Linked DNA regions of Homo sapiens: region 1 is linked to region 2. The links come from fine-mapping of genetic effects on gene expression. A gene starts in region 2. The other region holds a variant in brackets. All regions are shown on one strand. Distances are from middle to middle.

Region 1 (2,909 bases), 32 kb after region 2:
CCAAGTTCTCAATTTGTCATATAACCTTCTGGGGGAACTTTACAGTTCGAATTTCTATGGACTACCTAAGGTAGCCTACATTGATTTGCAAAAGAATCACATTGCAATAATTCAAGACCAAACATTCAAATTCCTGGAAAAATTACAGACCTTGGATCTCCGAGACAATGCTCTTACAACCATTCATTTTATTCCAAGCATACCCGATATCTTCTTGAGTGGCAATAAACTAGTGACTTTGCCAAAGATCAACCTTACAGCGAACCTCATCCACTTATCAGAAAACAGGCTAGAAAATCTAGATATTCTCTACTTTCTCCTACGGGTACCTCATCTCCAGATTCTCATTTTAAATCAAAATCGCTTCTCCTCCTGTAGTGGAGATCAAACCCCTTCAGAGAATCCCAGCTTAGAACAGCTTTTCCTTGGAGAAAATATGTTGCAACTTGCCTGGGAAACTGAGCTCTGTTGGGATGTTTTTGAGGGACTTTCTCATCTTCAAGTTCTGTATTTGAATCATAACTATCTTAATTCCCTTCCACCAGGAGTATTTAGCCATCTGACTGCATTAAGGGGACTAAGCCTCAACTCCAACAGGCTGACAGTTCTTTCTCACAATGATTTACCTGCTAATTTAGAGATCCTGGACATATCCAGGAACCAGCTCCTAGCTCCTAATCCTGATGTATTTGTATCACTTAGTGTCTTGGATATAACTCATAACAAGTTCATTTGTGAATGTGAACTTAGCACTTTTATCAATTGGCTTAATCACACCAATGTCACTATAGCTGGGCCTCCTGCAGACATATATTGTGTGTACCCTGACTCGTTCTCTGGGGTTTCCCTCTTCTCTCTTTCCACGGAAGGTTGTGATGAAGAGGAAGTCTTAAAGTCCCTAAAGTTCTCCCTTTTCATTGTATGCACTGTCACTCTGACTCTGTTCCTCATGACCATCCTCACAGTCACAAAGTTCCGGGGCTTCTGTTTTATCTGTTATAAGACAGCCCAGAGACTGGTGTTCAAGGACCATCCCCAGGGCACAGAACCTGATATGTACAAATATGATGCCTATTTGTGCTTCAGCAGCAAAGACTTCACATGGGTGCAGAATGCTTTGCTCAAACACCTGGACACTCAATACAGTGACCAAAACAGATTCAACCTGTGCTTTGAAGAAAGAGACTTTGTCCCAGGAGAAAACCGCATTGCCAATATCCAGGATGCCATCTGGAACAGTAGAAAGATCGTTTGTCTTGTGAGCAGACACTTCCTTAGAGATGGCTGGTGCCTTGAAGCCTTCAGTTATGCCCAGGGCAGGTGCTTATCTGACCTTAACAGTGCTCTCATCATGGTGGTGGTTGGGTCCTTGTCCCAGTACCAGTTGATGAAACATCAATCCATCAGAGGCTTTGTACAGAAACAGCAGTATTTGAGGTGGCCTGAGGATCTCCAGGATGTTGGCTGGTTTCTTCATAAACTCTCTCAACAGATACTAAAGAAAGAAAA[A/G]GAAAAGAAGAAAGACAATAACATTCCGTTGCAAACTGTAGCAACCATCTCCTAATCAAAGGAGCAATTTCCAACTTATCTCAAGCCACAAATAACTCTTCACTTTGTATTTGCACCAAGTTATCATTTTGGGGTCCTCTCTGGAGGTTTTTTTTTTCTTTTTGCTACTATGAAAACAACATAAATCTCTCAATTTTCGTATCAACACCATGTTCTGTCTCACTAACCTCCAAATGGAAAATAATAGATCTAGAAAATTGCAACTGCCCTTAGAGGTTTCCAGTCTCCATTGATTTTCTTTCAGATCCAATAATACCGTTCTGTCCTGCTGTGTTGATTATGGAATGTATCCTAATCATGGGAAGGGCACCTTGGGAGAAGTTGCAGATGGCTGACGTGCTTTCTCTAGCATTCAGCTAAAAAATGGGATGGTCCATGATTCTGCGTTCTCTGTGTTCTGCAAAACAACATTAAGTAGAAAACAAACAGAAGCAGAGGCACATTTCCTTCTTTTGCCACAGAAACAATGCCACTGTTGAGTGCAAGTCACACTTTGTCTCATAGATAAGAGGTGGCCCCAAAGAAGCTGGGATGAATGAGTCACTACCTGTCTTGTGACTGTACTGCACTTCATGTTCTTACCTTCGGCTTCTCCAGGTCTCGCCCTAGTGAGCCAAGAACTTTCTCTCACATGCTGCCTTTATTTAAGCCTGGCCTTCAAGACCTTCCATGATTTATCACCAACCTACCTTTTCAGCTTTGTTTCCTAGCACACCTCATTGATCAGCTGCTCAGGCTGTTGCATGAAGAACATGGACTTTGCACACAGATCCTGGGTTGAGTTCTGAGTCAGCTGTGTATTAGCCATGTAACCTTGGCCTTGGTATGCCCTTGCTGGACCTACATTTTCTCACGTAACAGCATCTATGTCATAGAATTCCTGTGAAAATTAAATTGGCCAAGGATGTCAGGGCTTCTCAGATCTTTTCCTTCGTTGCCCTAATGACCACAAGAGAACACATACACTGAAGGCCTCCTGGGGGGCAGTTGCAATTTCACTGAAGTTGTATTTTTTTATCTTAAATGAAATCTATGTGTATTTTCCATTCTGTTCTTTTTTTCATGTTTATTAATATAGAAATGTGTTTTTGCAAAAGGATTAAGAATACTTAAAACAAGGAAACTGTGCCAAAATTACCCCATAGCTTCACACACTGCCTCCTCCAAGTCCAGCGTAACTCCAGGTCAGCTCCTGCAGTTTGAGGGGTACACATGGGTCTGGGACTCAGCTCTCCAAACTGTCACCTTCTTCCCCTCACTGGGCCCCTCAATCCTGACTCCTCCAACACACACACGCGCGCACACACACACACACACACACATACACGCTATTCTCATCC
Region 2 (2,909 bases):
CCTTGCCCTCGGTTCCACTACCAAAAGAGGGAACACTGGGCTTGCCCCAGCAAGGTGTTATTTATGTCAGGCTAGGGCCACTGTGGCTCCCAGCTCTTACTGCTTTCTAGGTGCCCTTACAGACTTCCCCACTGCCCCCTGCATATGCCAGAGTGTGAACATCCCCTCCCTCTCCACAGCCCCCACAGTGGGGTTCGGGTGGGCAGGGAGGTGGTTTCATCCCTCTACATACAGCCCTTGGAGACCTACCTAGGCAATTTGTCACTCAGGCTTCAAGCTGCCAGCCGAGGAGGGGAGCTGAGAAGACTCTATAATGAGATCTTTGCACTGTAATTAAGTGCCAGGCTTTGTTTTACACCTATCTTTCCCGCCTTGCCCGATCCCACCGCCAAGCTCCTCCAGGCAGTGAGTGGGGAGTGTCAGCTGCTCTGTGATTACACCCCAAGTGGCAGGTGGCAGGGAGCTCCTCCGCCTGCAGTCTGCGCCCCACCCCCAGGCTTCCCCCACCACCAGTCTTAACTCAAGACAGTGCTATTTCTGTCCTTGAACTGGGTTTCACCCCAGAAAGCCACTCCACCGCTTTCTCATAAGGCTACCTCCTTTTAACCCTGTGGTTGCACGGCCTCTGGGGTGTCCATTTCTTTCTTTTGACACGTCCCTTTTCCTGAAAGTTTCAGCAAACCCCATAGGCAGAGGGAGTTAGAAAAAGGAAAAGAGAAGTTAGGGCAGGAGGAGCACTGTTCTTATAGGACAGGAAGGGTCTGTCTTCTCTCTTGGGTCCTCCACACAAAATCGGAGCTTCCAAACACCCCAGCTCCCAAACATATGCAGCAGATTCTGCTGACAGGAATGTGTCACTGTGATCTTCACATTTTAGCCTGAAGTTTAGCCTACCTGAAGAAGCACCGGAGTGGGAGTGGGAGAACATGGGATGGTGCTTCTCTTTGGCCTGGCTGTGCTTTTGGACACTTCAGGTCTTCGGCCTGGGTTTCCTCCTCCGTACGATGAGGAGAGGATGGGAGGGGGCAATGCTGGCATGTGTGATCTCGATAGACACTGTGGAAGTCTGCAGAGACCGGAGCATAACCTCTGCCTCCTCTCCCCGGGCCTAGCCTCTCACAGCCCTCAGAGAAAACCCTGAGCTGCGGCGTGGCCGAGACGGGGGCGTGGCCTGGCAGGTGGGCGGGCCCTTCCGTGGGCGGGGCCGCGAGGTTTTCAGGAGCCCGAGCGAGGGCGCCGCTTTTGCGTCCGGGAGGAGCCAACCGTGGCGCAGGCGGCGCGGGGAGGCGTCCCAGAGGTGAGCGCCCTGCAGCGGCAGGGGATGGGCCGGGGGCCCTAAGTCGTAGGCAGCGCGGGGCGGGGACGCGGCTGCCTGCGGAGGTCGGACTCCTCTCCGCCCTCCTCCCGGGCTGTCCGGGTCTATTTTCCAGTCTATGTCCAACTCGCGCCGCCTCACTAGGCGGCGCTCTCTGCCCCGCGGCACCCGCGAGACGTGGGGTCCCTCGGCCCAGGGACGGGGTGAGCGTGTCATGTGGGTGCCCTGTGCCCGGCAGGTTGGAGACGAAGAGACCTCGGCACAGACGAAGTCACTCACATCCTCGCTTTGAAACAGAGCGGGTCCTTCTTGTGCTGTCTCGCTGTCACTCTCGCCCCCACCCTGTGGAAGAGGCAGGTGGCTTGTCCCCAGTCACTTTCTTCCTTGGAAAAGGGAGACAGAGGGCCATCTCCAGCAGGGCCATGGAAATCCCAGAAAGTCACTGAGCTGCTCAACAAAAGGCCCTAAACACCCCACCCCACAGCACCAGGCAGTGCACACTGGCCAAGACTCCGTGGTAAATATTGCTGGCCTTTATGTTGAGAGGGGGAAAAAAAAGCCTGCCTGTGAAGATCATTGCCCAGTGGCCATGCTCCTGTGAAAACACAATTGGAAAGCCATTTCCTAAGGGGCGAGGGTGGGTCTGGGACCATGCTGTGGCTTGGGTGATTGGTGGTTGCAGGAGTGAGGGTGCTGCCCTGGGAAGGCGCTGAGGCCCTGTTGGGTGGGAATCGACGGCTGCGGCTTTCTCCCGGAGGAGGGAGAGCGGTGTTGTTACCTAGTGTTGGGAACACATCCGTCCAGCACCGTGAACTGCAAACAAGCAGAGTAACCCTAGTGTCCTTCAGATACTGTTGCTGAGCAGTCACCTAGTCAATGAGATGATCTGTTTGGACGGCAAGTGCATCTGTAATGCCGCCCTCTTGCTCAGTGCCTGGAAGAGGCATTGGTGACTCCCCGCTAATGCTAGGGGTAGCTACCGTGCAGGAGCAGTCAGGCTCTTGCAGGGCCAATGTGGTTTCATCAATTTTCTCCTGCATTTACCCAGCCCCTCCGAATTCTGAGAAGTGCGTCCAAGATCTCTTGGACTCCTTGACTCAGTTCACCCTTGTTCTTGTGGGCAGAAAACAATTCCCAGTGTGCCATGCACAGCCAGTCAGAAGGGAAGCCCTGGAGCAGGGCCCTGGGAGAAGTTCTGTGGGGCTGGATGCTAATTATTCAGTTACTGGATTGTGGGGAAATTCCAGGGGAGGTCCCAGAGGAGAGACCGTGCTAAAGCTAATTACTAAGCAGTACAAAAATAATCTCTCTCTCTCTCTTTCTCTCTCTCTCTCTCTCTCTCTCTCTCTCTCTCTATATATATATATATATATATATATATATATATATATATGTAATTTTTTTTTTGAGACAGTCTCACTCTGCCGCCCAGGCTGGACTGCAGTGACACAATCTCGGCTGACTGCAACCACTGCCTCCAGGGTTCAAGCGATTCTCTTGCCTCAGCCTCCCAAGTAGCTGGGATTACAGGTACCCACCACTACGCCTGTCTAATTTTTGTATTTTTAGTAGAAATGGGGTTTCACCATGTTGG

What was found.
Region 1: its variant is fine-mapped to the expression of TLR5 in monocytes after LPS (Fairfax 2014, PIP 0.93). The same link has a PIP of 0.9 or more in whole blood.

What each region holds. Positions count from the first base shown.
Region 1 is chr1:223,109,110-223,112,018 of GRCh38, reverse strand. TLR5 (toll like receptor 5) reads left to right here. Exons shown (of 6, transcript NM_003268.6): 6 at 1-2,615. The coding sequence ends at 1,564. Among named protein-coding and RNA genes, the nearest start is that of TLR5, 33 kb to the left of the region's middle. The variant A/G (reference allele first, on the strand shown) is at 1,510.
Region 2 is chr1:223,141,584-223,144,492 of GRCh38, reverse strand. TLR5 (toll like receptor 5) reads left to right here and starts at 1,245. Exons shown (of 6, transcript NM_003268.6): 1 at 1,245-1,297; 2 at 2,730-2,845. It overlaps LOC124904522 (a long non-coding RNA gene), which reads right to left and starts at 1,138. Exons shown (of 2, transcript XR_007066895.1): 1 at 895-1,138. RefSeq lists a silencer at 1,087-1,456.